Homo sapiens: one gene and its partners. The main gene of each other region encodes a partner of the protein of the gene in region 4 in a complex. Each region holds a gene or a part of one and is shown on either strand. Other genes may lie near its edges. The genes, in order: NUP93, CETN2, NUP153 and NUP107.

Region 1 (7,256 bases), on a different chromosome or scaffold from region 4:
GAGCCCATTTGATGCATCATGATCACCCAGTCTGTAGTTTACATTAGGGTTTACTCTTGGTGTTGTACATTCTGTGGGTTCAAGCAAATTTGTAATGCCGTGTATCTAAAAGCCTCATCTTTTTAATAATTAAAGTTGACCATTGTCTTCACTGAACTTACACAGAAACAAAACCATGCAATATAATTCTGTATTCCTTGCCAAGTTACAATGTCATTGTGGAACAAAATGCAATGAACATGAAAATAAGACTTTCTCAGCTTCTTTGTAAATGGAACTGTTTAATATTATTTTGTTAATGGGTAGAATAAAATGTAATCTGATGGTGAAAACATTCTTCTTGACATTGTGGAAAATACCTCCCTATATTGCATGTGATGGAAAAGCAATTCGACTGGGAAAAGTTTACTGAATTAAGCTTACTGAATTCTGGCCTATTGACCTTATAATAAGCATGTTAGATGAGACGTTATAAGGGCTCAAGTAATACCTGCATCCTTCAGGATTATTTTGATTGCAAGTGATGTAAAACCTCAGTGAAATTGAGCAAAAAATAAAATTTTCTGGGTCATGCAACAAAACATTCCAGGGTTAGGGTTAGCTTTAGGCACAGCTTGATCCAGAAGCTGTGTCACAATGTCACTTGAGTACAGGCTCTCTCTCCATCACTACATGGCTCTCTTCTGTATTGTCTTCCTCCCCAGACAAATTCTTCCCTTGTGGACAATAAACAAACAGGCCGGGCATGGTGGCTCATGCCTGTAATCCCAGCACTTTGAGAGGCCAAGGAGGGCAGATCACTTGAAGTCAGGAGTTCCAGACCAGCCTGGCCAATATGGTGAAACCCCGTCTCTACTAAAAATACAAAAATTAGCTGGGTGTGGTGGCATACACCTGTAATCCAAGCAACTAGGGAGCCTGAGGCACAAGAATCACTTGAACCTGAGAGGCAGGGGTTACAATAAGCCAAGATTGTGCCACTGCACTCCAGCCTGGGCAACAGAGTGTAACTCTGTCTCAAAATAAACAAACAAACAAACAAACAAACAAAAATTTGAAAGGAATGATAATGCCTACAAAAACATCTTCACAGTTCTAATTTATTCCAGTCATAAAGATAAGTGTCTGAGCAGAACATCTTAAGAGTGCATTTTCTTGATCCTATTGGGTTCTAAACCAGTTCCTGAACCAGTCCCTGTGGCCAGGGTACTGCACTACTCTGCTCTGATTGGCGAGGCCTGAGTCACATGCCACCAATCAAAACACAGGGACTGAGATTTGGGGCAGGAACGCTCCACAGGGGAGTCCAAGTGTTAAAAGACGTCCCATTAGAGAGCAAATGTCTGGTAATACGGTATAGTGCGTTGAATACACATCCCATATACTCAATGAGTTCATCTGAAGACTAAGAATATTCAAAAGCACAATTCAACCAGACGAGAGTACAAAGGCCTGTGTTTGTTTGATATCATCATGCAGCCAAAAAAGGTAGAGTTATACACTTGGTATGTATAGAAGACATGCAAAATCTGTGTTACAATACAGGGTTCCATCAAATACTTCCTTTGAAAAACAGGATTCTGTTAAATAATGTTTGGGACCCAGTAGGACTAAATGAGGGAAGGTAAGGACTCTCCACCACCACCCAGCTCCCTTTTAAGTAGGAAAGAGCTTGAAAATCCCCACCTCTGAGAAAGGGGCCTTGCGGGGGCTCTGGGGCACATCTCAGAACAATTCTCAAGGCAAAGGCTCTTGAAAGATTCTGAGCTCAGATAAAGTGATGTTTAAGGAAGCTCTTCTGGCAAGGCATGAGCCAATGCACCCAGTTCTCTTAAAAACAAGAAAACAAAAAACAAACCAAAAAAACCAAATAATATATTGTTTATGCACAGATACATTTGTGATAAAACTATAAAACATTGGAATGATAAATATGAAATGTCAGATTGTGGTTATCTCTGGGGATAGGAAGGTATATGGGAAGACCATCTGGAAAACTGCAAGGTTTTTTAAGATGAGGTGTCACTCTGTTGCACAGGCTGGAGAGCAGTGGCACGACCAGGGCTCACTGCAGCCTTGACCACCTGGGCTCAGGTGATCCTCCCACCTCAGCCTCCCCAGTAGCTGGGACTACAGCTGCACACTACCATGCCCAGCCAATTTTTTTGTATTTTTTGTAGAGACAGGGTTTCACCATTTGCCCAGGCTGGTCTTGAACTCTGAGGCTCAAGCTACCCTCTTGCCTCAGCCTCCCAAAGTGCTGAGATTACAGGCGTGAACCACTGTGCCTGGCCACTTTTTCCATTTAACATTATGTTTCCAAGATTCATCCATGGTGTATCTGTGGCTGAAGCACACTCATTTTTCACTGCTGTGTAATGCTCCATTGCATAATATCCCACAATTTATTTATCCTTTTTTTTTTTTTTTGGTTAACAGATATTTGGCTTGTTTCAAGTTTTTTGCTAATATGAACTGTGCTGCTATGAAGATTCTTACTTATAACTCCTGGTGCATATGTGTAAGAGTTTCTCTAGGGCATATATCTAGGAGTTGAATTACTGGGTTTTACAATGTAGAAATATTCAGCTTTAAAAGGCAAGTGTCCGGAATTTTCATTTGGCAATATTGCACAAGCATTTGTCTATGTCATTAAAAGTGCTTTTTTTTTTTTTTTTTACATAAAGAAAAAGCAAAGTAAAAGTATAAAACATTATTCAGATGCAAGATACTATTATCTTTGTGGATATTCTCTGACCATAGCGGGGTCTGGTTACATATATAATAGCTTCAGGGCAAAGGCCACATTCATACATATTGTTAATCAGCACCAATTATTTATAGAGAACTCACAATATGCTGGTGTGAGGTATTAAAAATAAACAAAGCTGGACACTAGTTGCTATAGACTTCTTAATGTTTGTGTCCTCCCCCTTCAAATTTATATGTTGAAACTCTGCTCTCCATTGGGATGGTATTAAGAGGGGAGGACTTTGGTAGGTGATTGGGTCATGAGAGTGAAGCCCTCATGAATGGGATTAGAGCCCTAATAAAAGAAATATTGGAGAGCTCCCCTCACCCTTCTGTGTGTGGTTACAGGGAGAAGAGTGCTATATTAGTCCGTTCTCATGCTGCTGTGAAGAAATACCTGAAACCAGGTCATTTATAAAGAAACGAGGTTTAATTGACTCACAGTTCCGCATGGCTGGGGAGGCCTCAGGAAACTTATAATTATGGTGGAAGGCACATGTTCACAGGGCAGCAGGACAGGGAATGAGTGCAAGCAGGGGAAATGCCAGACGCTTATAAAACCACCAGATCTCATGAGACTTACTATCGTGAGAACAGCATGCCAGAAACTGCCCCCCATGATCTGGTTACCTCCACCTGGTCTCACCCTTGATATGTGGAGATTATGGGGATTATAATTCAAGGTGAGATTTGGGTGGGGACACAGAGCCAAACCATATCAAGTGCTATCTATGAATTAGGAGGCAGGCCCTCAGCAGACACTGAATCTGCGGGTGCTTTAATCTAAGGCTTCCCAGCCTCTAGAACTGTGAGAAAAAAATTTCTGTTGTGTATAAGCCATCCAGTCTATGGATGAGTCTGACCCCACTTGTCCCTACTCACCATCTTCCAGCCGCACACCCCTTCTTTCTAGTCTCCAAACACTAAGCTGGCTTCCCCTGGAGACTTCACTCTTGTTCCCTCTGCCTGGAATTCTTTGAAGCCAGAACTTTGCAAGCCCCATCCTTTCTCATCCTTCTTTATTCAGCTCAAGATGTCGCCATCTCAGAAAGGCCTCCCTTCAACATCCAAGCATTCTCTCTCCCATCACCCTGTTTTTTCTTCATAGCTCTTCTTGCAAAGTGCAGTTATTTATTACATTTTTGTTTCCCCTGCCAACCTGGGAACTCAATGAGGGCAGCGATCTTGTCTGACGTGGTCGCCACGGTGTTGCCAGTTCCTAGACTAAGGCCTGGCCCTTGGATGGCGCTCAAGAAGGAGTAAGAAATTCCTTTAACTTAGGGAATTCTGGAATCGCTTTCTCCCGGCAGAGCCGACTCTAACCAAGTGGGAAAGGCGAGGTCCGTGGCTGCCTGTGGCCCAGGGGTGACGGTTTGGCCCAAGGCCCCACCTCCGCCCCGCCCCCGGCCCCGCCCCTGTTCTTGTCCTCCCCCACGGGTCTCCATAAAGTTCATTTGGCGTCGCACCGCGCGAGGGCTTCTGGGAGCGGCCAGCCTTGGCCAATCAGGAAGCGGGGGAGAGCGGCGCGAGAAGCGGCGGCCGCGTCCTCAAGCCGGCACCTGAGCGGCGGAGACGGCTGTAGCACAAGGTAAGGGTGTGTCTGGTCGCGTCCTTGCGACCCTGGGCTTGTCCTTGAACCCAGGACCCCGTGACTGGGTGGAGCGCCGTCCCCACGCTCGGAACCCCGCCGCTCATACTTCCCGTTCTCCTCATGGCAGCCGGGCACGCCTGACGCCGGCGACACAACGCCTTGTCGAGCCGCCCCCGAGGCTTGGAGTCGGGCTGCATCCCTGGGGGTGCCTTTCATTCGTCCACTTTCTGAATGCAGAACCTAGGCCTCCCGACTCCCCCTTCCCCACTGTGGTGCCCTCGCGCCACGCCCCTGCCCTCACCTCCACCTCGTGCCCCGCGAGCCCACCCTGCCTAAGCCTGCGCCACAACGCCCCGCCTGCTTACCTTCCTGACCGTGCCCTGCCTGCTTGCCTACCCCTCGTGGACACACCCTGTAGGGAGGCGTTGCTCTGCGAGGGAAGGGGTCTTTGGGGCGAGGGGAACTTATCCCAACCCTTGGCTTACCTTTTGTACATCCAGGAGGATGCTGGTGATTGGAACCCAGGGGTGGCCCACCCTTCTCTGTGCTTACTCCATCCCGTTCCCTGCAGAGGCGATGCCCAAGTTCACTGGGTTTCTTTTGAAAAAATTATGGGGCCGACCCCATGGGTCCTTGGTGAAAGTATGAAAGACACGTTGACAGAGCCTCTGGTCTGGATTTGCCCTTCTGCCAGACGTGGGAAGGAGGTTTTATTTATTTAATTTTTATTTTGACCGAGTTGTCTTTCAGCAAAAGCGAGGGTCACCTTTTTGTATTCTTTCCAGGGTATGTGGGAGGGTATCCTCGGTCATCCTAGCTTTTCTTCTTTATTTTTTTTTCTTTAAATTCTCCTTTGTGCATTTGTGTTTGCAATATTTTTATTTTCATTGATGGTGATTTCATAGCATTAAATACATACATATCAGAGGCTAACAGATTCCGTATTTATATCTCCATCGCAGGTCTCACCCCTGACTTTTATCCAGCCACCCACTTAATATCTCCACTGAGATGGGTTATAGGCAACTCAAATTAAACATGCCAAGAGAGGGCTAGCAAGCTCCCCTTCATTACTCTCCCCAAACTGCTCCTGTTGCCTCTTTTTTCTCATCTCAATAATAGGAAAGACCTTGGCTAATAACTTTTGAGCCATCGTTGACTGCTGTCTTTCTTTTTCTTTTCTTTCCTTTTTTTTTTTTTCTTTTGAGACAGTCTCCCTCGGTCGCTCAGTCTGGAGTGCAGTGGTGCGATCTCGTGTCATCGTGTGACTGCAACCTCTGCCTCCCAGGCTCAAGTGATTCTCCTACTTCGGCCTCCCAAGTAGCTGGGATTACAGGCGTGTACCACCTCACCTGGCTAATTTTTGTATTTTTAGTAGAGACGGGATTTCACCATGTTGGCCAGGCTGGTCTTGAACTCCTGGCCTCAAGTGATCCGCCCATTTCGGCCTCCCACAAAAGTGTTGGAATTACAGGTGTGGGCCACCACACCCAGTCTTCTGTTTTTCACGCCACAAATAATACTTGCCACCCTGGGCCAGGTCACCACCTCTGGTTTGGATTATTGAAATAGTTTCCCATTTGGTCTTCCTGCTTCTGTCCTGGCCCCTGTTTTTTGCACAGCAGCTAGAGGGATCTTTTTAAAACACAGGCTGTCAGATCGTATCATTCCTTTACTTAAAAGAAAAAAAAAACCCTCCAATGGGTCCCCATCTCATTAATAATGATAGACAAACCCCTTTACAGTGAGCTATAAGGCTTTACATAATCTGACCCACTGTTACTTTCCCAGTCTCATTTTCTGCTCCCTCCCTTTCCAAACGTCAGACATGCTTTAGCCTCAGGGCATTTGTGCTTGCAAGTTAATATCCATGTAGTTTGCACTCACTTCTTCCAGGTCTTCACTAGGGAGGCACCTAGTGAGGCTTTCCCCATTTCCCGCCTCCCTTCATTGCTTTAGTTGTTCTTAGCACTTATATTTCACGTATTTTTCTTGTGTATTGTTGTCTTCCCCCTGTAGAATGTGAGTGAGGGGATTTTTATCTGTTTTGTTCACTGATGTGTTCCTAGCACCTAGGTCTGGCACACAGTAGGTGCTCAAAAAATATGAACTAGATGAATGTTACTGGCACTCTTGCAGGCATGGGGATGCAGTGGTGAATGAGACAGGCCTGCCCTCATTGAACTGATAAGCCTGTGGAGGGTACCACTAGCAATAAAAGCACAGATAGGAAGTGTGATGTCAGGGCTGTTTCTTAAAGGAGGACAGGGATATTTGAATAGAGACCTGCTTGAAATGAATGAGCAGGTCATGGGACTATCTGAGAGCATTGCTGGTAGTGGGTAGAGCAGGTGCAAAGACCGTGCAGTGTGAACAGCTGGAGATGTGGTGAGCCTGAGGGTCTGAACCAGCCTCTTCATAGACTGATGTAGAAAATAAGGTTGACAGAAAGATGGATGTGCCAAGGAGGGGGACAGGTTGGAGCAAAGATCCGAAGGTGAGAGGGCCCACTCCTCATGAAAAAGTTTATTTAAAGAATATGGAGTTAGAGGGAAGATCTTTCACTGGTGTGTTCAGGGAACAGGTCACTTTAATTCAACAAATATGTATCTGATCCTGTTATGTGCCAGACTTAATGCTGAGGACTCAGAGTTGAGCATCTGTGGACCTTACCCTATAGGAAATTTGCCACTAGAGAGGGAGACATATGTGTGATGAAATAATCACAACTGCTGCACTAGGGAAGAACAGTATAGAAGATTCAGAGTAGTGTGGGAGGGGTTGGCATAGGTGGGACTTTCCCAGCTGGCTGCAGCATACATAGGAGTTCCCCATGTGACAAGATAGGGTTGGGGATGTGTTATAGAGAGTGTGTACTTAGCATGTACAGGAGTATGAAGGGAGGAAACAGGCA
Region 2 (7,427 bases), on a different chromosome or scaffold from region 4:
ATAAAGGGAGGTCCGTGGGGGAAAAGTTTGTGTTCTCAAAAGCCAGATTTCACACCATGGCAGGCACTAAATCTAGTTACATGTGCTTGCAGTAGAAAAAGAAGACACTGATCTTAATAGAGGCTGGTCTTTTTCATGATGCGCAGGAACTCTTGCTCACTGACCTCTCCATCTCCATCTCGATCAGCTTCATCAATCATTTCCTATATGACAGTAAAGATTCAGGTTAATTTATAAACTAATGCCAAAAGGTGACTAAGTAATAGACTTTTTTTTTTTTAGAGATGGGGTCTCTATGCTGCCCACACTGGTCTCAAATTCCTGGCCACAAGAGATCCTCCTGCCTCAGCCTCCCAAAGTACTGGGATTATATGCATGATCCACTGTGCCTGGCAAGCAATAGACTTTTAATCTATGTGAATAGATAATTTGTATCTATGTGAATAGATCATTGTAGTCCACCCAATGCCAGTATGCTACTCCTGATAATAGCTTGGTTTCTGAAAAGTTATTTGAAAACCAACTCATACTTTGTCAAACATATCACCTGGGAGGGACCTTGAAGATTGCCTTGACTAGAGGGATTCCTGGAACCTAAAATAGTAAGCAAAATTGTGCATATGTGCATTTTTCTGGAAGCAGGGTTCATAGGTTTGTCTGACTATTAAAGGAGAATTAAGTTGTCTGCAGAGGGACAAAGTACACTGGCTTTTCTTCAAAGAGGTGCTCACACTAGGGAAAATGTAATGGAAAAGTCACAGAGGGCTCAAAGGTGGGAATTTTAAGTTCCAGTGTGATGCATTACAAACCTGCAGCTCCTCATCAGTCAGGTTCTCACCCAACTCCTTGGCCACGCGTTTCAGATTTTTGAACGAAATCTTCCCAGTTTCATCATCATCAAAGAGCTTGAAAGCTTTCAGGATTTCTTCTTTAGTATCTTTCTCAGACTTAACAAGTAGAACATAAAACACATGAGTAGGGGGACACCACGGTTGGTTACTACTGTCCTGTAGCCCTGCCACTGCCTGGTCAGGTCACCCTTTCCTTTTTAACAATGTAACTCGAGTCTAGACTTGCGGCAAGTGTCAGGAAGCCCATTTTGGCCTCAAAGAAACACCAGGCAAGCCAGGCACTCCATCCAAGGTGACGTTTGCTACCTATCGCTATATCTCTCCCTATCCCATATCTATTTCCTAACTGATTTGGAATTCTGTGGGAAGAGGTATCTGCTTGGAAGTCTTGAGAAAGAAGCACAAGGGCTTGTTTTGGGAGCCCAAAGTAACATGATGGGAGGGCAGGCCTCCTGATGCAGTTGCTACCTGGACTGCTCTGTGGTCACATGACTGTTTTAACAGGAAGACGCCATGGACCTCTGCAGATGACTGGGGCTCCATACCATGATAATTGTCTTAGCTACTTACCATTTTCTGGGTCATCACAGTTAAAAAGTCACCAAAGTTCATTTTTCCTGTCCCTTCCTTATCAATTTCACTTATCATTTTCTTAATTTCTTCTTTCTTGGGTTCAAAGCCCAGGGCCCTCATTGCCACCTATAAAGAAAACAGGATCGTCTCAATAAGCACATCTAAAGTAGCAGGAGCAAAAATAACAGTGTTGAGAGCATTAAGCCAGCATCTGATGTGGTCATGTTAATATGATTGGGGAACACTATGACATTGATCTAATTGATATTTGCAATCAATTTTATTGAATAATACTCAAAGTAAGTAAAGACAGGAAAACAGCACAGTACAACCTCCCCTGTTACTTACTGCAGGGAGAAGAGGGCAAAAGGGGTAGAGAGGTGATAGGGAGATGACAAGGAAGAGGCAGAGGAAAGGAAGGGCAGTACGGCAGGAATGCACAGAGCTTGCCTTCAGTTCTTTAACATCTATGGTGCCAGTTCCATCCGCATCGAAAAGATCAAAAGCTTCCCGGATCTCCTGCTTTTGCTCTTCAGTAAGCTCAGGCTTAGGGCTCATTCTTTTTCGCTGAGAACTTGATGCCATGTTTGCCTTCTTAAAGTTGGAGGCCTTTATATGTTATGCAATACACAAGCACAATAATATATCATACAGTCCATATTTACATAACATAGTTACAGACACCCATATGTATTTTTAAAGTCATTTATATAACCAATTCCAAAGCTTTGCTTAAAAAGAAAGATAACAGGGTTTACTGGCAAGAACAATGAATCTTTCCATGAACTTCTACCCCTCCCTTTTCTTTACTGTTGTTTCTAGAAGCAGGGAGATCACTTGTTCAGTAAGGACACCTCTTACTGAAAATCATCCCAAAAGAGAGCCAGTCAAGAAGATGACTGTGAATAACTAGAGATAATCAGCTCTTCCCGAACGTGGGGATCCTGGTTCTGAAAACAGTCTTACGATGCCCACTCCCAGTACTCCCCTTCCCAGTAAGTACTCCGACTTCCCAATTACTTCTAGATTTGGCCAAATATTAGTAAGTTGTTAAGATGTATATTGTGTCAGTACCGAGTAATAAAACTCAATCCATCTGGCACCTTCGTGCCTTCTCCAAGAAGCTAAAGCATCCCCTGAATGCCCCTGTATTTAAATTGTAAAAAACATTGTAACAGAACACGATACACCTTTTCCCAGCTGTGTGTGGAAATTTTGGCAGAATGAGGAGGCCAGGGGGCCAAGGTCTGAGAGAGTCAGGGGCCTGTGAGGGATTCGAGTCTTTTTTGCCCAGGGAGGTTCACCGAGGGGATCAGGGAATGCAAGGGGAGCCCGAGGGGCGGGTGTGGGCCTGTTGTGGGTGAAGAGGAGGCAGCAGCGAAGCGCAGGCCCAGTAGGTTGGTTAGCGTCTGTACCCTACTCTCCCGGGAAAGAGCTCAAAGGAAAGACTGGTGCGCTAAAGCCGAGAAAGGCGCAGGAGAGGCGGCGTGGCCGAGCTGGGGCCTGGGAAGGGCTCAGCCGCTGGGCGTGGGGCGCGACAGAGCGGCAGCACTCACCATAGCCAAAGGAGTCCGCTGCCGGTTGTTAGGCAACCGACGTGTACACTGACTCGGCGCCGTTCCCACCGCCCCGCGCGCGCAGCCCCGCTCCCCATTGGCCGTCCGCTCGTCGCCGCCTCTCCCTATTGGTGCAGGGCCGAAGAGGGTGGGACTAACCTGGCAAAGCCCCGGCCCAGCGCGGGGAGGGGCACGCTGGCGACAGAGCCCCGTCTTTATTGGGCAAGATCACGCCGTGAGCGCCAATTGGCTGAGTCGTCGCCGAGCTGGGCCAATCCTCTTGGTGGAGGAAGCTCGGCTGATTCTCGGCTCACGCGGGAGGGGAGTAAAGGGTGGCGGTCCGGGCCTGGAGTTCAGTGGGTGCAGCCTGCTTGCGAGCTGAGGCCAGACAGGGGGGCGCCTACGGACGGGTAAGAGTCGTGGCCTTGCCATTGGAGGTCACCCTGTGTCAGCGACTGGGCAGTGCGGGAGGGTGGGGAGCTACGGGGTCGCCCGGGTCGGGTGCTTTCTGGGTTGACCTAAGGCTGAGTTTAGGGACCGAGTGCATCAGAGCAGCCAGAAACGATTACCTTGCGTGTTGGAGCAGGGACTGTACTCACGGGGCAACTGAGACCCGGAGAGGGGAAGGGGTGTGCTGAGTGTTGTCGCAGAGGTCGGACGGCTGGGACCTAGGAACTGAATCCAGCCGAGGCTCGCTCTTTGAGGGTGGCCCTTCGAGAGCACCCCTAGACTGACCCAGATGTATAGGCCCCAGACCAGGTTCCAAGAGAGGATCACTTTAGATCTTACCTGGCTAAAAGCAGCCCAGGACGGTGAACTGGGGCCTTTGGGAACGGACTTTGAAAGGAGTGAGGGGGATGTGAGCGAGCATGAGGGGCGGGGAGAGGTCATCAAAATATACTCTTTTTGACACCCACACAATGCAGATAAGGAGGAGCATTCCAGGCCGAGACGCCCTCATCAGCAGAGTCACAGGAGTTTTGGAAGTGAGAGGTATGCTTGGAGAATTAAAAGGGAGCGTGTGCAAGGGCTGTGGACTGACATAGACCTGCAGAAGTGGAGCTGGAGGTCCAGTTTGCCCTCTTTAGCTATCCCCGTGGCTTTTAGCCTTCACCTGTTTTTCCTCCAGGCATAGGGGCAGTAATCTAGGGAGACAGAGGGCAGAGAGTAAGTTTCTCAGACAGAGAAAGGCCCGAGGCTTATTAGAACCTTTTAAATGGAGCTGCTGCCCTTTGCCCTCTTCTCTCTTCAGCAGTGAACAGATTCCTGACTTTTGGGTCATCATCATCCCCCCAAGTAGTACGAGCCAGAGTTCTCACTGTGATCTCCAAAGCTTGGCACGACGTGTCCCCTTCCATCGCTCCACAACTCTTCTCTCGTCTGGCTCACTCCAGCCCCAGAACACTGGCTTTGTGGTTGAACCTCATGTGCCAGCCACACTCCTGCCTCTCATCTTTGTCTCAGTTGTCCTCTCCGCCTGCCTCCTCTTAGGCACCCTATTTAAGTATTGCAGCCCCCAGTACAAACAAGCCACTCACCTTGCTCTACTTTTTTTTCCAACAGTTCTTATCCCCTTCTGACCTACTGTATATTTTGCTTGTTTGTTTTGCTCTTTGTTGTCCCTCCACTAGAAGGCAGGCTGTCTGAGGGCAGGCATCTTTGTTGTATTCACTACTGGTACTCCAGGACCTAGAACAGAGAGGGGCACATATTAGACAACTGATGAGTAGCTCCCCTGTTTCCCAGCTCTCACCTAGCTAGTCCTCCCTGCTCTACCAGGTTAATCTTCGTAGTGAACGGCCCTGGTCAGGGCATCTCCCTGCTCTTAAACCTTCAGAGCCTGAACCGTAAAGGGCTCCTTAGCCTGGCCTGTGATCCCTCTGCCCAGTTTTGCCCCTGGTAACCCTTCTAGCTTAATGTCCCTCCATACCTTGCTTCCCAGTCCGTCAACCTGCAGATCGGAAGCCTGACAGAGTACAAGGGAAAAACACAAGTTCTGCGCAGGCTGTGTGCAGGCTGTGTGACCTTGGGCAAGTCGCTTAACCTCTCTGAGCCTGTTTCTCATTTGTTGAGTGAGACCAGTACTGTCTACCTGATGGGATACTTTTGCATCTCAATGGGATGAACTACTTATATGTAAAGTGGCCTGATGTTGAGCAGGTCTTCAGGCAGTATTACAGTTGACCCCTGAACAACATGGGTTTGAACCTTGTGAGTCCATTTACAGGCAGATTTTTTTCTCATCTCTCCCACCGCTGAGCAGCAGGATCAGCTCCTCCTCATCTTCCTTCTCAGCATACTCATCAGGAAGACCGTGAGGATGGAGACCATGATGATCCACTTTCACTCAGTGAATAGTAAATATATTTTCTCTTCCTTATGATTTCATAGTAACATTTTCTTTTCTCTAGCTTAATTTATTGCTGGGACACAGTATGTAATACATGTAATGTACAAAATATTTGTTCATCAACTGTTTACATTATTGGTAAGGCTTCCAGCCAACAGTAAGCTATATTAGTGAAGTTTTAGGTGAGTCAAAAGTTATATGTGGATTTTTGACTTCGGGGCTCCGTGCCCCTAACCCCCACATTGTTCAAGAGTCAAATGTAGTTCTTGTCTCTGATTTGCTCTTGTCATTCCCCCCCGCCCACCATGCCTGGAGCCTTAGACTTGTCCAAAATCTCTTCCCTGCACTGCAGCCAAGGTGATCTTTCCAGTCGCAACACTCACTCCTGCTTCCAACTTCTAGGGGCTCCACCATCTTTCCCCCCTTGTAACTCCCTAGCTTGGCACACAGCCCCCACATGTTCTCAACTTTGCTCCCGATCTTGCTTCACACTTGCTGTGACACAGCTTGTCACTGTTATAAGAACATGCTGGCTCTGTGCCATCACTTTGTCCTTCCCACCCTGGCCATGGAATGTCTTTCAGGACACCATGCGCTCTGTTTTACTCACTCTTCTGGGGCCTTTTGAAGTCAGCTTAGGGATCTCCTAGTTGGGGCAGGCTTCCCTGAGCCAGCAGCCTGCATTGGTGCTCTGGGCTTGCCCTCATCAGAGTGGAAACGCACTTCTGTGACTCTTTGCTTGCTCCTGTCTCCCACCCTAGATGGCGGGCTCCTTGAAGGTTGGCAGTGTGTCTTTGTCAGCTTCTGCCTGGTAGTGGCTGGCATTTGATAACTTGTGAATGAGGAAATCAATGCATGAGGTGACACCTGGGGGTTCTTTTACAAGTTACAGCTCCCGCTTTAACCCTGGGGGTTTGTTTGAGCCTCACAGTAGCTCTGAGGTAGGGAAGAAGGACGCTGTTTTACAGATAAGGCCTCATGGCCAGCGGCAGCACGATAATTCACTCAAACCCATCTTCCATTCCAGGCTGTCTGCTGGGCCTCCAGGGGCTCGTGGTGTCCTACAGGGTGCTGAGTGTGAGGATGAGAGCAGAAACAGGTGCTGTGGAAGCGACTCACCTTCCCTGGGGAGGGGGAGGAAGTTTCACAGAGGGGGCAGTTCAGCTAGGCCTTGAAGGAAGAGGAGGCACTCACCGTGGAGAGGAGAGAGAAGGTATTCCATGCAGAGGAACAGCGTAAGCTAAGCTCACAGGCATGCTGCTGGGTTTCTGAGAGGTCTACCACAAAATAAAAGCTGGCGACTTTTTTTGTCCTAAAAGTAAATAGAGAAACAAACAACTGGTGGAAACATGGACACCGCAGGTCCGTGGAAGGACAAGGTCAAGCTGGGTTGCCCCAGCATAATCAAGGCTAAAGTGACACCTCTAAAGAGAAATGACCTCCAAGCTATTGGCCTCACTAATCCTAATCTGGGTATTTTCTTTCCCATATCACATCTTTGAATTCTGAAAGGGAGGCTTTATTGTTGTTCCTACAGGGCTCCTGCTTTGCTGTATTTTCTCTAAGAAATATGTCCATAATGAAGGTGTGTGCCGCCTCAGGTGAATCCTTCTCTTTGCATCTGATCATCTGGCCCAGTCCTGCAGAGGAGGCCAAGCATGAGGCATGAGGTGATGGGAAATAGGGGAATCCTCTTTTATAATCCAAGGCTTAGGCCCCCATTTCAGGATTCCAAAGAAAGTTCTAAGAAACATTACTTGGCATTCCTTGGATAGCCAAACTCTACTGAGGTGTTTGGGGAAGGGCAGTTTGCCTGGCATTGTCTGCCCATGGACTGAAGGGATGAGCTCTCAGTGGCCACATTCTAGCTTCCTGCACTGGACCTTGTGCAAGGGTGGGGCTCCGACAACCTTTCCCCTTTACAAAGATGTCACACTTCTTTCTAGAAGGACGGGACGCTCTCATCTCTCTCCCTAGTTTGAGACAGAATGTTCTCTCCTTTTCCCTCCAGGAAATGTTCCCCAGCAGGAAGGAGGAGGTTGGGCTAACTCGCTTCTCTCTTCTCGCTTCACATGAGGCGGCACACACCTTCATTAT
Region 3 (7,485 bases), on a different chromosome or scaffold from region 4:
TGAAGTCGTATCAACTCTAAGACACCTTGGATCATAGGTGTTATGCTGTTAAGACATCATCTCCCCAAAATTAGATTTTTATTTTATCTAAGTACATTTAAGCTGTGATCAGGGGCCGGGCGCGGTGGCTCACGCCTGTAATCCCAGCACTTCGGGAGGCCGAAGCGGGGAGATCACGAGGTCAGGAGATCGAGATCGTCCTGGCTAACATGGTGAAACCCCGTCTCTACTAAAAATACAAAAAATTAGCTGGGCGTGGTGGCGGGCGCCTGTAGTTCCAGCTACTCTGGAGGCTGAGGCAGGAGAATGGCATTAACCCGGGAGGCGGAGCTTGCAGTGAGCCAAGATCGCGCCACTGCACTCCAGCCTGGGTGACAGAGCGAGACTCCGTCTCAAAAAAAAAAAAAAAAGCTGTGATAACTTCAGACATCTGGAAAATATTAATTCCCTTCTAACCTCTATTCAGACCATCCAATGACCTATATTTAAAACAAGTCATTTTTCTACATGTCATACAAGAAAATCTAAGCACTCAAAGGCATTCATAGGAGAAAAGAAAGCATGCATGTGTAACTTCCATTCTACAGACGGATTAGGTTAAATGGCCAGGCTTGTGACCTGAATTCTAATCTTAAATCTGCTCGCAAATACCCCTTTTCTTCACAAATTTGAAAACTAAGCACTTTATGTACATATCTGGGGGAAAACTGGTGGGAGTAGTAACAGTGCCAAACCTAACCATCAGTAGAGAACGACTGAAAATACCTGAACCACAATTTTTACTACTCAAACATTTCCCTCAAAATAAAAAACATTTAAGAAAACTAGAAGACAAAAAAAAAAAAATTCCTCAAATCTTTACTTTTTTTTTTTTTCTTCGAGACAAGAGTCTCGCTCTGTCGCCCAGGCTGGAGTGCAGGGGCAAGATCTCTGCTCACGGCAAGCTCCGCCTCCCGGGTTCAAGCCATTCTCCTGCCTCAGCCTCCCAAGTAGCTGGGACTACAGGCGCCTGCCACCACGCCCGGCTAATTTTTTGTATTTGTTAGTAGGGACGGGGTTTCACCGTCTCTGGATGGTCTGGATCTCCTGACCTCGGTGATCCACCCGCCTCGGCCTCCCAAAGTGCTGGGATTACAGGCGTGAGCCAACGCGCCCGACCCAAATCTTTACTTTTAAAAATCTGTTGATAATGACACAATTTAACAACATCAACCATGTGAAAGTGTGTAATCTTTATTAGCATCCAGAATAAAGTAATCTAGGAAGTCTACCTTTAACAGTAGGCAACAAGTTATCAGATCCTTTTGCTACACTTTTGTTTTTCAACAAATTTAAGACACACACTTCCCACCTCAGTATCACTGATAAGTGGCTTTATTAAAATAAGTTAACATTTTCCTATTCAATACTTCTAACAATCAATATTTTAAAAATGGAATTTTCTCAGAATCAACTATCTCATTTACAATTAGGATAATCCTTTTTTATAATTTTAAACATCCAGGAGTTCATACAGTGGCTAAACTATAAGACCACCAACATTCCTGGAGTGTCAAAAGTAACTATACTTCTAGAATACGCCTCATAATATTAAAATATTTTGTGTATGAGATCAGAGCTGGAGTCCCGGTCAACTGTGGAGAATGGCCAATTCCAGCCTCCAAAATAAAGGCGGGGGTGGCGGTGTTGGGGGGGGGGAGGGGAGTCGCGCAGCAGAGAAAAGACGTAAGGGTGGAGAGGGACTTTCAAAATGCCCCAGTGCCACGGTTAACTATAACCTGGTTAATAAAATCTAAGCCAATGCTCTCAAGACGAGGAGGGCCACAGGCAGGGGAAACCGAGAATTAACTCATAGGCTGAGACTAAGTTATTCCACTTTCCATGTAACAGCGCCCCCCACAACTCCCCGTCTGCCCCAGAGTTAAGATTCCAAGGGGCAGCCCCCCCTCCTCAAACACACTAAAGAAGGGACACCAGAAAACAGCAAGTATAAGGGCCATCAACCACATCTTTTCCTTTCTCCCTCGAGAGAACATGAGTAATACCCTCAAATTCCAAATCCCCGCCAAAAAATAAAGAAACGCGCGCATCATGGGCCTACAATTTCTTTTCCCGCCCAGAGCCTGCCTGGGAAAGCCCCTGACCCAGAGAGTTGGGGGAAAGGCGGCCCAAACCACACGTGTGCGCCGCAAGGCTGGGCCTGTCTCAGCCCACTTCCCGTCGCCACCCCCAACGGCCTGAGCTCCCCCGGAGCCTCACTCGGGCCTTTCCTCAGGCCCTCCTGTCTGCTCCACGTGGGGCGCCGGGGCCTCGAACCGCCCGTCCCCTCCAGCCGAGTTTCCCCACCCGCCAGGCCACCGCGGCGTCGGGGTCCCATACCTGATGCTGTTGTCGCCCCTGCTGGTAAGGCTTAATTGGCCCCTGGTGGCAACGCCGCGTCCGGATCTTGCCGCCACCGCCCCCTCCGACTCCTCCGGCTCCCGAGGCCATGGCGGAGCCTCCGCCGCTTCCCGCTCCGGGGCGGGTAAGGGGGCGGGAGAGGCAGAGGCGGAGGCCTTAGAGAGCCTCCCCCGCCGCCCGGCCCCGGCCCAAAAGTCCGCCCGCGCTGTCCACACAGTGGGCACAAGCACCCCAGGAACCGCGAGGTTGCGAGCAGGAGCGGAGAGAGGGTGAGTGCTGGCAGCGGGGAAGGGGGTGGCGGCCGCAGAGGCCGAGGAGGCTCCGGTCCGGCCGCCTCTGCGGACCCCCGCCTCTGTGTGTGTCACGGTCTCTATGGAGATCTCCCGCAGAGGACAGCACGAACAGTTCCCCGCGGTGCTGAGGCCTAACTCGACCGCCGACTGGTGGGAGTTCTTCCGTCGCCCTAGCCGTAGCTGCCGCAGTTGAAGCCGCTGGCGACGCCCGCCTACCCCTCCCCTGTGCGCACAGCGCCCGCCCCGCCGCCGTCGTCGTCGTCGTCCCTGCAGCCTCCGCCGCCGTTGCGCCTATTACCCCTGCTAAGGCGGCTGCCGCGGTCGCGAGCCAGAATGTCGTCACTCATCGGCGCCCGACGCATTTGCATCATCATGCTGCGACGAGCTGATAGGCAAAGAGGAAGGGCTGGTCGAGTCCACGCTCTCGGCCGCGCGGCACGCTGGGAAACGTAGTTCAACAACGGAACGCGGCTTCTCGGAAAGGAAGAGGGACGGGGAAGGAGATCTCCGGGGCGCCGCAGAGGCACAAAGCCAAGGGGTACTTTTGCTGTTCTTGGCTGTAAATTAGACTTTGAAAAGACACTTAACATAAAAACAGTAACCTCTTCCCATTCTCCTTCTCCCTGTCGGTTGGTTAAGTAGGCAGGAAGTAAGCAGACAGTAAAATCAAAGACAAGAGCTAATGATTTAAGAAGGAGGAAAAAAAAATCTGTGGTTGAAAAATAAAGTCCATGATCCTTAGAATTAGAAAATATATACGGCTTCATTAATGTTTCTTTAAACATATAAAGGTTTTGTTGCAGACACACGGGGCTGGAATTCTGGTTCTGCCACCCAACCTATTTGACCTTGGATGAATCAAAACCGTCTGAGCCTTAGCTTCCTCCTCCATAAAATGGGAGCTTTAAAATCCACCTTATAAAGCTGTTGTGAGGAGCAGACGTGATCATCTATGGAGAGCATGTATATTTGCTAATAGACGAAAAATGCGATGAATGATTACAATTATAACCCATGCAGTCAGCTAACATTAGGGGTAAGTGATATATCCTTAACAATAAAAGTATACTATATTTGCTCCAAATATTTAGGAAACTGAGTAAGTGAGCTAGACTCAAAGACTGAATCCACAAAATGTATATTCTAGGAGTTGACGATTAGAAAGGTCCTGGTGATCACATAGTCCAACCCTCTCATTCAACCAACCAGACAAGATGTCCAGAGAAATTTAGGTGGCACAATCAATGACACTGAGATGGGTAATCAAAGCCAGGACTATAACCCAACTTTTCTGTAAGAGCTAAAGACAAATAGCCAAATGATTAGGGAGGAAAAATATGTTGTGAAAAATCTTAGACTTACTATAAATCTTTTTTTTTCTTTCTTTCTTTCTTTCTTTTTTTCTGAGAGACAGAGTCTTGCCCTGTCGCCCAGGCTGGAGTGCAGTGGCGCGATCTTGGCTCACTGCACCCTTTGCCTCCCAGGTTCAAGCTATTCTCCTGCCTCGGCTTCCTAAGTAGCTGGGACTACAGGCGTGCACCACCACGCCCAGCTGATTTGTGTATTTTTAGTAGAGATGGGGTTTCGCCATGTTGGCCAGGCTGGCCTTGAACTCCTGACCTCAAGTGATCCACCCGCCTTGGCCTCCCAAAGTGCTGGGATTACCCGTGTGAGCCGCCACGCCCAGCCTATTTACTATAAATCTCCCACTTACTAGCTGTGTAGCCTTGGGGAAGTTACTGATCCTGTTTCTTTCTTTTTTTTTTTTTTTTGAGACGAAGTTTTTTCCTCTTGTTTTGCCCAGGCTGGAGTGCAATGGCGCAATCTCAGCAACCTCCACCTCCTGGGTTCAAGCGATTCTCCTGCCTCAGCCTCCCGAGTAGCTGGGATTACAGGCATGTGCCACGACGGCCGGCTAATTTTGTATTTTTACTAGAGATGGGGTTTCTCCATGTTGGTCAGGCTGGTCTCGAACTCTCAATCTCAGGTGATCTGCCCACGGCCTCCCAAAGTGCTGGGATTACAGGCGTGAGCCACCGCGCCCAGCCCACTGATCCTGTTTCTAAGCTTCGTTTTTTTCATCAGCAAATAGAGCGAATATTGACCTCACAGGGTAGTGGTCTGGTGAAAGGATTAATGTATATCTAGTTCATAGTAACTGCTTAGATAGAAAGCATCCAATATCAACCATCAATCAGATATAAATAATTAGTTCCAAGACATTTATACTATCTCCACAATCAAACTGCACAATTCAGGTTCATTGTTTAAATCATACAAGTGAAATTGTAAAGCCAGTCTTCTAGTACCTTTGAACTTGTACCTTTCAGCGCCTAAAGAAACTATGCTATACCAAGCATAGGTGTACACATCAATGGCTTTCAGTGGCACCTCTGACCATAACCATCAAGATCAAGACAAGTTGCCAAATATGATAAACAAAATTAATCTATTTTCCGCTGTCTCATCCTAGCTTCATGCCTCCTCCCACCACTAACTTCCCACTAAATTCTCCAGGTATGCCCCCTCTTCCTCCTGAAGCACTTCATCTTTCTTAAAGACAGTTGTTTCCCTCAGGTGCTATCTTCCTCCTATGCAGAAATCCTATTCTTCCACAAATCCATAGCTAGATATTTGACAGCCAAGTAAAGTAATTCACGATAAGCTAACTCATAGGGAAGATCTGTACCTGAATCTTTAATTGGGTTATACGTAGAGGAGATTAAACCATAGCCACATCCCATCTGCCCTCTTCACTCTATGAGACCCAGAGTTTCCACCACAGAACAGAGGACTGACTGGAATCAAAGCTCACCCCTTTCTTGGAGGCTATTCTTTGATGTGCTGGACACCCTTCACAGCCAACCTTTGAAAGGAAGAGAGACGCGAAAGAATTGGGCCAAATGTAGACAATGCTTCAGAAATAGAAGATTGGTAGAACTTGAGGAGATATGGGAAAATCCACATTCCTTTTACCCATGCTCTCAACTTTTTACCCATTTCCACAATTATTTTATTTCTTGGAAGTAAAATAGTATTTGAGGGAACTATAATGCATTAATCTCACATTCATGTGATTGAGTCATTGGAAGCCGTGCCAGGCTTGAGAGCAGAGAAGGAATAAAGAGACAGGAGGAAATCTGCATTCAACCTGGACCTAGTTTTTTCAGCCAAATAAATGGCATATTGGGAGACACTGCAATTCATGAAAAGCTTGTTGCTACAATAGTCCTCCTCTGCCAAGAAACTTCTTTATTTTGTTCCCCATATAATATAGTAGAAAGTGGCCGAGCACAGTGGCTCACACCTGTAATCCCAGCACTCTGGGAGGCCAAGGCGGGTGGATCACTGGAGGTCAGGAGTTCGAGACCAGCCTGGCCAACATGGTGAAACCTGTCTCCACTTAAAAAAAAAAAAAAAAAAATTAGCTGGGCGTGGTGGTGCTCACCTGTAGTCCCAGCCACTCGGGAAGCTGAGGCAGGAGAATCGCTTGAACCATGGAGGTGGAGGTTGCAGTGAACTGAGATCATGCCACTGCACTCCAGCCTGGGCCACAGAGTGAGACTCCATATCAAAAAAATTAAAAAATTAAAACAACAAATATATATATATATGTATATATATATATGTAACCAGCTGCCAATTATAAATTAGCAAATAGGCTGCTGACCCATCTCTAATAGATAAGGAGTATCCACTAATTAAAAGTGAAATACAATTTAGTCTAAACCCAACCTAGATTGAAAAAGAGCCATCATACATTCTTCAGAAGGTACTAATACAATTCTGGCCAAAAGAATGTTTAAAGATGACAAGTACAAGAAGTTACGAAATTTTATGTAGTTATTCCACCTTACCAAAACAAAATGAGGTATCTGCTGTGATGTCTATTAAAACAAATTATCACACTCATGCACAGCATAACAATGTTTCAATCAACAATGGGCCCAATATACAATGGTGGTCCCATAAAGAGCTGAAAAATTCGTATTGCCTGGTGATACTGTCTTTGTCCTAAGGTCTTATTGCAACACATTACTCACGTGTTTGTGGTGATGCTGGTATAAACAAACCTACTGTGTTGCCATTTGTGTAAAAGTGGAGTATGTACAATTATGTACAGTACAGAATACTTCATAATGATAAGTGGCTGTTTCTGGTTTATGTATTTACTATACCTTTTTTTTTTTTTTAACAGGCACTCCTTGCCATTTCCTGTTGCTACCATACTTTATTATTTTAAAGTGTATTCCTGGTCAGGCATGTGGCTCACACCCATAATCTCAGCACTTTGGGAAGCCAAGGCAGGAGGATCACTTGAGGCCAGGAGATTGAAACCAGCCTGGGCAACATAACGAGACCCCTTCTCTACAAAGAAATGAAAAAATTAGTTGAGCTTAGTGGTGTGCACCTGTAGTCCCAGCTACTAGGGAGGCTGAGGCAGGAGGATCACTTGAGCCCAGGAGTCTAAGGCTGCAGCGAGCTATGATCTCACCACTGCAGTCCAGCCTAGGTAACAGAGTGAGACCCCATCTCTAAAGAAAAAAATAAAGAAAATGAAGCTATTGGGTTTATTTATTATTTATTTATTTATTTATTGCCTGTTTGCTTGTATTTTAGGGAAAGAAGGGCCACACAACGGAAAGATATTTAAGGATGTAAATCATTGTATTCTCATTAACTTACTGTGTTCTCTCTCTATTGGGAATAAAGTAATATTTAAGACTAAATTAACTAATATGAGCAAATTTTGATTAACTACATATATCACTTGATTCCAACATGCCATATA
Region 4 (7,030 bases):
CACAAGATTAGGGGGTTAGTTTAAAAAAAAAAGAACAAAACAAAAGTATGTATACTCTTGTACATCAAGAAAAGAAAGATTTTATTCCAAGTGCAATAAGAAGGCATCAGAAAGTTCTGGGTAAGACAGTCGCATGTATTTTATTCTGAAAGGGTCACTAGTCCATCTGTATAAGGAACGATTGTATAAAGAACAGTGAGAAGCCACGGAAGACAGTAGAGGCTTGGACTAGAATGTGCTAGAGGTAGAGGTAGTGAAAGGTAGGTAAAGATGACCTGCCTGCTCCATTCTCTCTGCCATTCCTCTGTGCCACCAGCCCCAACACTAAGGGGACTATTCCAGTTATTTAAAAACTTGAGGGGTAGCTATACGAAAACAGCACATAATGCTAGGGCTATTGTGTACAGCCGTGCCTTGTACAAGGGTGGCTGGCCAAGCAAGTAAGTGGGGCTGAAATCTAGCCTGTGTTCTGTCTTACATATTGTGTGCACTTGCCATGGAACCTATCTATGTAAGGGAAGGGAATTCCAATTTTTTTTTTTTTTTTTTGAGACGGAGTCTCCCTTTGTTGCCCAGGCTGGAGTGCAGTGGCGCAATCTTGGCTCACTGAAACCTCCGCCTCCCTGGGTTCAATCGATTCTCCTGCCTCCACCTCCCTAGTAGCTGGGATTACAGGCGCGAGCCACCACACCCGGCTAATTTTTTGTATTTTTATTTTTATTTTTGAGACAGAGTCTCGCTCTGTTGCCAGGCTGGAGTGCAGTGGCGCAATCTCGGCTCACTGCAACCTCCGCCTCCCAGGTTCAAGTGATTCTTCTGCCTCAGCCTCCCAAGTAGCTGGGACTACAGGCACGTGCCACCATGCCTGGCTAGTTTTCTGTATTTTTAGTAGAGACAGGGTTTCACCATATTGGCCAGGATGATCTTGATCTCCTGATCTTCTGATCCACCAGCCTTGGCCTCCCAAAGTGCTGGGATTCAGGCGTGAGCCACCGTGCCCGGCCAATTTTTTGTATTTTTAGTAGAGACGGAGTTTCACCATATTGGCCAGGCTGGTCTCGAATTCCTGGCCTCACGTGATCTGCCCTCCTCGGCCTCCCAAAAGTGCTGGGATTATAGGGATGAGCCACCGTTCCCAGATAGAATTACAATTTTCTAATTCACATACAAGTGACACGTGTTAGCAGGGGCCTTGAACAATGCCCTACGTCATTGACTATGTAAGAGTATTAGGCTCAACAAAGGTGATTAAAATGTTATTAATCATTTAACTGTTCAAGAAATCTCTTTTCTGGATTAGTTTTAAAGAAATAATTGAGACTGAAGTTTTAAAGAAATAATTGAGACTGAATATTGATTTTAAAATCCCTGATGAAACAAAATGGTGTATCATTCATTGCCTTCCATCTCAACTCCATTTTTTTTTTTTTTTTTTTTTTGAGACAGGGTCTCACTCTGTCACCTAGGCTGAAGTGCAGTGGCACGATCTCGGCTCACTGCAACCTCTGCCTCCTGGGTTCAGGCCATTCTCCTGCCTCACTAGTAGCTGGGACTACAGGCATGCACCACCACACCAGGCTAATTTTTTTGTATTTTTAGTAGAAACGGGGTTTCCCCATGTTGTCCAGGCTGGTCTCAAGCTCCTGACCTCAGGTGATCCACCCACCTCAGCCTCTCAAAGTGCTAGGAGTACAGGCGTGAGCCACCACGCTTGGCCTCAACTCTAATTTTATGAGATCCCAAGACTATTTTGTGGCTTTCACTACCTAATCTACTTAATTAATAATTAGAATAGCAAAGATGTATGTATAAATAAAGCATTGAAGTCTTTTCAAAATTTAAGTGACACTTAATTAGCATTTTACAACATTAAAATTTTATCTTCAAGAGAATCAGCATGAATCAGATGAGAAAGGTTTTGCCAGAGGAACCTGTGGAAGGTTTAAAACGAGTCAAAGGAGTTCTATTACGAACGTTAGGATAAAAAGTGGAGACTTGGCTGGGCGCAGTGGCTCACGCCTGTAATCTCAGGCACTTTGGGAGGCCAAGGCAGGTGGGTCACCTGAGGTCAGGAGTTCGAGACCAGCCTGGCCAACATGGTGAGATCCCATCTCTACTAAAAATACAAAAATTAGCTGGGTGTGGTGGTGGATGCCTGTAATCCCAGCTACTTGGGAGGCTGAGGCAAGAGGATCTGGGAGGCGAGCCAAGATTGTGCCATTGCACTCCAGCCTGGGCGACAAGAGCAAAACTCTTTCTCAAAAAAAAAAAAAAAAAAAAAAGGTGGCGACACATTGACTCATGCCTGTAATCGCAGCACTTCAGGAGGCCAAGGTGGGAGGACAGCTTGAGGCTAGAAGTTCAAGACCAGCTTGGGCAACACAGCAAGATCCTGTGTCAAAAACAAACAAACAAAAAAGCCAGGCATGGTGGTGTGTGCTTGTTGTCCTAGCTACTGGGGAGGCTGAGGCAGAAGGACTGCTTGAGCCCAGAAGTTTGAGGCTGCAGTGAGCTATGATGAAGCCACTGTCCTCCAGCCTGGGTGATAGAGCAAGACCTTGTCTCTAAAACAAAAAAAGAAAAAATAAAGTGGAGACATTTAAGATAATTACTCCATCAGTAATAGTGGCAAATAGGGGCTCAAATTTAGTTCGCTGTCCTGCCTGTATTCTTTTTCCTCCTTCTGGTCAGAGAAGACAGGCTAAAAAAAAAATGCAATAGCTAAAATTAAAGAAAAAGTACTAAATAGATGAGGGTATGAAGAATGGCAAAAGGAAAGATACCAAGAACACTTACTGTTTTCTTTGTTCAAAATAACACATCAAATATCCAAGAAGCCAGTATTTCCAGCTCTCAGACAGCTCCTCAGGTCTACAGAGGATAAACTAAGCTACTCACTGTTTCTGTCATGCACCAGGGTCAGGCTGCAATGTCTTTCCCTTATATGACTATTATCTCAGTATCCTTCCTTTCTCCCATCTCAGCTCATCCAAATTCTACCAGTATGTTCAAGATTCAGTCAAATGCTATACATTTCAAGCATACGTTCCAGTTCCCTTTCAGGTGAAAACAATCTTTTCTTTTCCTGGACTCAGAAAATACTTAACCTGTGCCTTTCTTATGGCACTTGATACTTCTGTAGCTGGTTCTCAACACAGGCTATATATTATATTAAAGCACTGCAAGTGATTAAAAAAACAAAAATAAACCCCAGCCCTACCTCAGACCAATTACACCATAATCTCTGGGAGTGGAACCCTGTAGTGTTTTTAAAAAGTCTGCCAGGTCATTAAAATGGACAGCCCAGAGGTGAGAGCCCCTACCTTAGCTATGCCTTACTGATACTACTCGAGTTATCTTTATATCTGTAAATGGAGTGACATACATGTATAATTAAATTTTTAGGTCCAGAATTTTTTAAAAATTAGATTTTTGTATCCTCTGTGAACATAGTAAATGTGAACTAATAGTTTATCCAAGAATCAAATATTCCCATTCCCTAGGTAGTATTTTCAGTTTAGCTTAAAACATGGGATTTAGCTATATCTACAATTATGTAAAATCTGTAGATGCTCCCATTTAGAGACAGAATATTTTTAAAAAAGAACATGGTGAGTGTTTTGGTTTTTGGCTATAAACAATGCACACAGCTTACCTCTCTAACATCCACCATCCACCCTCCATCAACAAACAACAAGACGTTATACATTTTCTCCTTCACATCAGCAGTTAGGGCATCCAAATGCCCTTTCCAAATACCAAAATCCATCTGCAAAACAAACACAAGGCAGACATATAATGGATAAAACCCAATAAATAATGTATTTGGAAAATACAGACAGGAACATACATATAGAACATCATTCTAAAGAGTTGATGTTTCAGTCTGCCAAGTACAAAAATAAGTATCAACAGACTGCAGTTAAGTAAAACGCTAAAATGTTAACTTTGTAAATGAACGCTCATGTCACCTGAAGGCATTTTTCATGTTTGGTTAATTACCTACAGAAAAGTAACTAAACAGATTGCATCTTCCAAAGCAGGACATTAACAGGGAGATTACCTGTTATGATCGAAAGATAGTTGCTGAAGAAACGATCTCTTTAAATATACAACACACATTTATAAGATGCAGTAGGCACATCCTAGATCCATATTTAACTTACTTCATATTTCTTTTCTTTGTGTTCATGAGCCACTTTCTCAGTAAAAGTTGGTTGAGGTATCAAAGCAGGTTTTTGTGGAACTGAATTCATATGCTTAAACCACTCATTAAAGGTTTCATGGGCTTCCTAAAATGTGAAATAAAAAAACCAAAATATAAAATAACAAAAGTTTTCACTTTTATCGTTTCACCAACATTTTTAACATTTGATTCTTAGAAATAATTTTGCAGCATCAAGAAATAAAACTGTTCAATATATATTTTTTTCCCTCCAAAAATTCATATCATGAATAAATGTTTTGTCAAGTGACAAACAAGGTATATATATTGTGTTTTCTGGCATATTCTCCAATCTGAGCACCCTGATCGTATATGTATCTTGACATTCATCGCTCTGTAACATATGCATGTGTACTTGTCTTCTTAACTAGCCTATTAGTTTTTAGAGGGCAAGGATAGGGTGCTATCCACAGATTTGGCCCTACTACCTAACCCACTGTAATTACATAATTATTTATTGAATAAAATTTTTTTTTTGTTTTTGAGACAGGACCTTGCTCTGTCACCCAGACTGGAGTACATGATCTAATAAAGACAAGGCATGATCTCTGCTCACTGCAGCCTCAACTCCCTGGGCTCATGCGATCCTCCCACCTCAGCCTCTGAAGAAGCTGGGACTACAAGTACATGCTACCATGCCTGGCTAATTTTGTTTTATTTTTTTGTAGAGATGCAGGGGTCTCACTGTGTTGCTCAGGCCAGTCTTGAACTCCCAGGCTCAAGCAATGCTTCTGCCTTGGCATCCCGAAGTGTTGGGATTATAGGCGTGAGTCACCGCATCTAGCCTTGAATGAATTTTGAATGAGTATGCTGCTATTTTAGTCATAACAAACCTAGAGCATCTTGCTTTTTCTCAGTTATTGAAAAAAGCAGAAATTTAAAGCTGAGACATGCATCACAAAATCTTAAGAAAACATAACTTCCAGACATCATAGACACTATCTACCATGTGAGATGATCTTGGTTGGTTAGCATTGATTAGAGAATCATGCTAATGAAGATAAGGTCATGAAGTCAGTCCCCTTGTGGATGAGTCAGCACTATAGTCACAAGAGAGGTAAGATGAACCAACACTACTTCTAGAAAAAAGTTCAAACTCTGAGAGTGAATCCGAAAAATCATCATGAAGTAGGCACATCTGTGGCTTTCTTTACAGTCTCACCAAATAAGCTCTGATGCACAAATGTTCTCGGATAGCATTATCATCTTCAGCAGGAAGTGGACTTTCCATTCCTTGTTCCTCGCACTGATTATAGATTTCTGCTATAGAATCCTGAGGAATTTTCACAAATACTTCTTTTGCAGCTTCGTGCTTTTTTGATGCTGTGAAAAAAGATACACAATTTTGAATGCCTACGGACTTCTCTGTAATGGTTTCTAAAGGAGTCAAATCACTGGTTTACCAATTTTACAGTGACCTGTAACTATTTCAGGGCCCAAGGCACTCTGTTAAAGGTCTTGGTGATCTTTCTACCTGATAGACTGGCTTTTTCGTATCTCAATGTGATACTATCACAAAAGGATACATCAAATGCAGTTACTTTTACATACTTTTATGTCTTAAAGCAATTCATTTTTCAAAGTCGGATAGCCTTGAGATTATTTGCAAAATTGATTAGGACAATGAAAATTCACCATTAAAATATATTTTGTTTCATAATACCAGGTTTGATAGATAAAGAGTGGCTGGTTTTCTCCTCCCTATGGAAGGATCAAAAACAAAAAGCAACCCCCCACCCCAAATTCAAAAATACACGAATTTGAACAAAAACGTTTTAAAAAAGAATAAAAAATCTGGGTGTGGTGGTTCACGCCTATAATCCCAGCACTTCAGGAGGCTGAGGTGGGAGGATTGCTTCAGGCCAGGAGTTCGAGACCCGCCTAGGCAACATAGTGAGACCCCATCTCTAGAAAAAATTTTTTAAAAATTAGGTGGGTGTGGTGGTGGGTGCCTGTAGTCCCAGCTACTTGGGAGGCTGAGGTAGGAAGAAGAATGGAGCCCAGGAGTTTGAAGCTGCATAAAAATATACTATACCCAAGAATTTTCTCATAATTGCATTGCCTTGTTTCAGTGCTTCTGCCCTCTGCGCTGGGTCAAATACCAACCAGTCAATTACATCAATTTTTAAACGATCCTCCTATTTATTAAAGGGGAAAAAAAGAAAAAGGAATATCAGAGTTTTTTTTTTAAAGATATTCTACAAATTAGTAGAATTAACTTACACCTGTACTTCCAGTAAACATCATTTTCTCTCAAGTTATACAAAATTATGAAAGCATCTAACTTTCCTTAGTGTATTTTCATATTTAACAGCTCTCTATTAAATTATAGAAAATACTGCTGGGCATGCTGGCTCACACCCGTAATCCCAGCACTTTGGGAAGCCCAGGCGAGCGGATCTCTTGAGCTCATGAGTTCGAGACCAGCCTGGACAACATGGCAAAACCCCTTCTCTACAAAGAATACAAAAAATTAGCCAGGCATGGTGGCACATGCCTGTAATCCCAGCTACTCGGGAGACTGAGGGAGGGTGGCTTGAGCCTAGAAGGCGAAGGTTGCAGTAAGCAGAGATAGCGCCACTGCACTCCAGCCTTGGTAACAGAGCTAGACCTTGTTGTCTCAAGAAAATAAAAATAAAAATAAATTATAGAAAATATTAATCTGGAATTATATATTGTATGCCTTACCAACTTAACCACGTGATTCCTTTAAATGTTACTCTAAAATAGTTTTCTTAGATATAACTTTCTATTCCTTTCTGAAAATATGAGTAAGCAAGCTACATAAGTTAGTGATTAATCAAG

Evidence for each region.
Region 1: NUP107 (region 4) and NUP93 share a complex: the UniProt entries of both Homo sapiens proteins name them as parts of the nuclear pore complex.
Region 2: NUP107 (region 4) and CETN2 share a complex: the UniProt entries of both Homo sapiens proteins name them as parts of the nuclear pore complex.
Region 3: NUP107 (region 4) and NUP153 share a complex: the UniProt entries of both Homo sapiens proteins name them as parts of the nuclear pore complex.

Annotation. Positions count from the first base shown.
Region 1 is NC_000016.10:56,725,873-56,733,128, forward strand, and holds the start of NUP93 (nuclear pore complex protein Nup93), read left to right. Parts: upstream 1-4,256; 5' UTR 4,257-4,339; intron 4,340-7,256. UniProt on the Homo sapiens protein: Plays a role in the nuclear pore complex (NPC) assembly and/or maintenance. May anchor nucleoporins, but not NUP153 and TPR, to the NPC. During renal development, regulates podocyte migration and proliferation through SMAD4 signaling.
Region 2 is NC_000023.11:152,827,728-152,835,154, forward strand, and holds the start of CETN2 (centrin-2), read right to left. Parts: upstream 3,031-7,427; 5' UTR 2,984-3,030; coding exon 2,981-2,983; intron 2,034-2,980; coding exon 1,875-2,033; intron 1,551-1,874; coding exon 1,422-1,550; intron 948-1,421; coding exon 810-947; intron 204-809; coding exon 114-203; 3' UTR 1-113. Other genes in the region: NSDHL (sterol-4-alpha-carboxylate 3-dehydrogenase, decarboxylating), read left to right, coding at 6,996-7,000. UniProt on the Homo sapiens protein: Plays a fundamental role in microtubule organizing center structure and function. Required for centriole duplication and correct spindle formation. Has a role in regulating cytokinesis and genome stability via cooperation with CALM1 and CCP110.
Region 3 is NC_000006.12:17,703,898-17,711,382, forward strand, and holds the start of NUP153 (nuclear pore complex protein Nup153), read right to left. Parts: upstream 3,029-7,485; 5' UTR 2,491-3,028; coding exon 2,380-2,490; exon of another isoform or gene 2,233-2,379; intron 1-2,232. UniProt on the Homo sapiens protein: Component of the nuclear pore complex (NPC), a complex required for the trafficking across the nuclear envelope. Functions as a scaffolding element in the nuclear phase of the NPC essential for normal nucleocytoplasmic transport of proteins and mRNAs.
Region 4 is NC_000012.12:68,731,970-68,738,999, reverse strand, and holds part of NUP107 (nuclear pore complex protein Nup107), read right to left. Parts: intron 6,364-7,030; coding exon 6,261-6,363; intron 5,549-6,260; coding exon 5,388-5,548; intron 4,293-5,387; coding exon 4,167-4,292; intron 3,770-4,166; coding exon 3,656-3,769; intron 1-3,655. UniProt on the Homo sapiens protein: Plays a role in the nuclear pore complex (NPC) assembly and/or maintenance. Required for the assembly of peripheral proteins into the NPC. May anchor NUP62 to the NPC. Involved in nephrogenesis.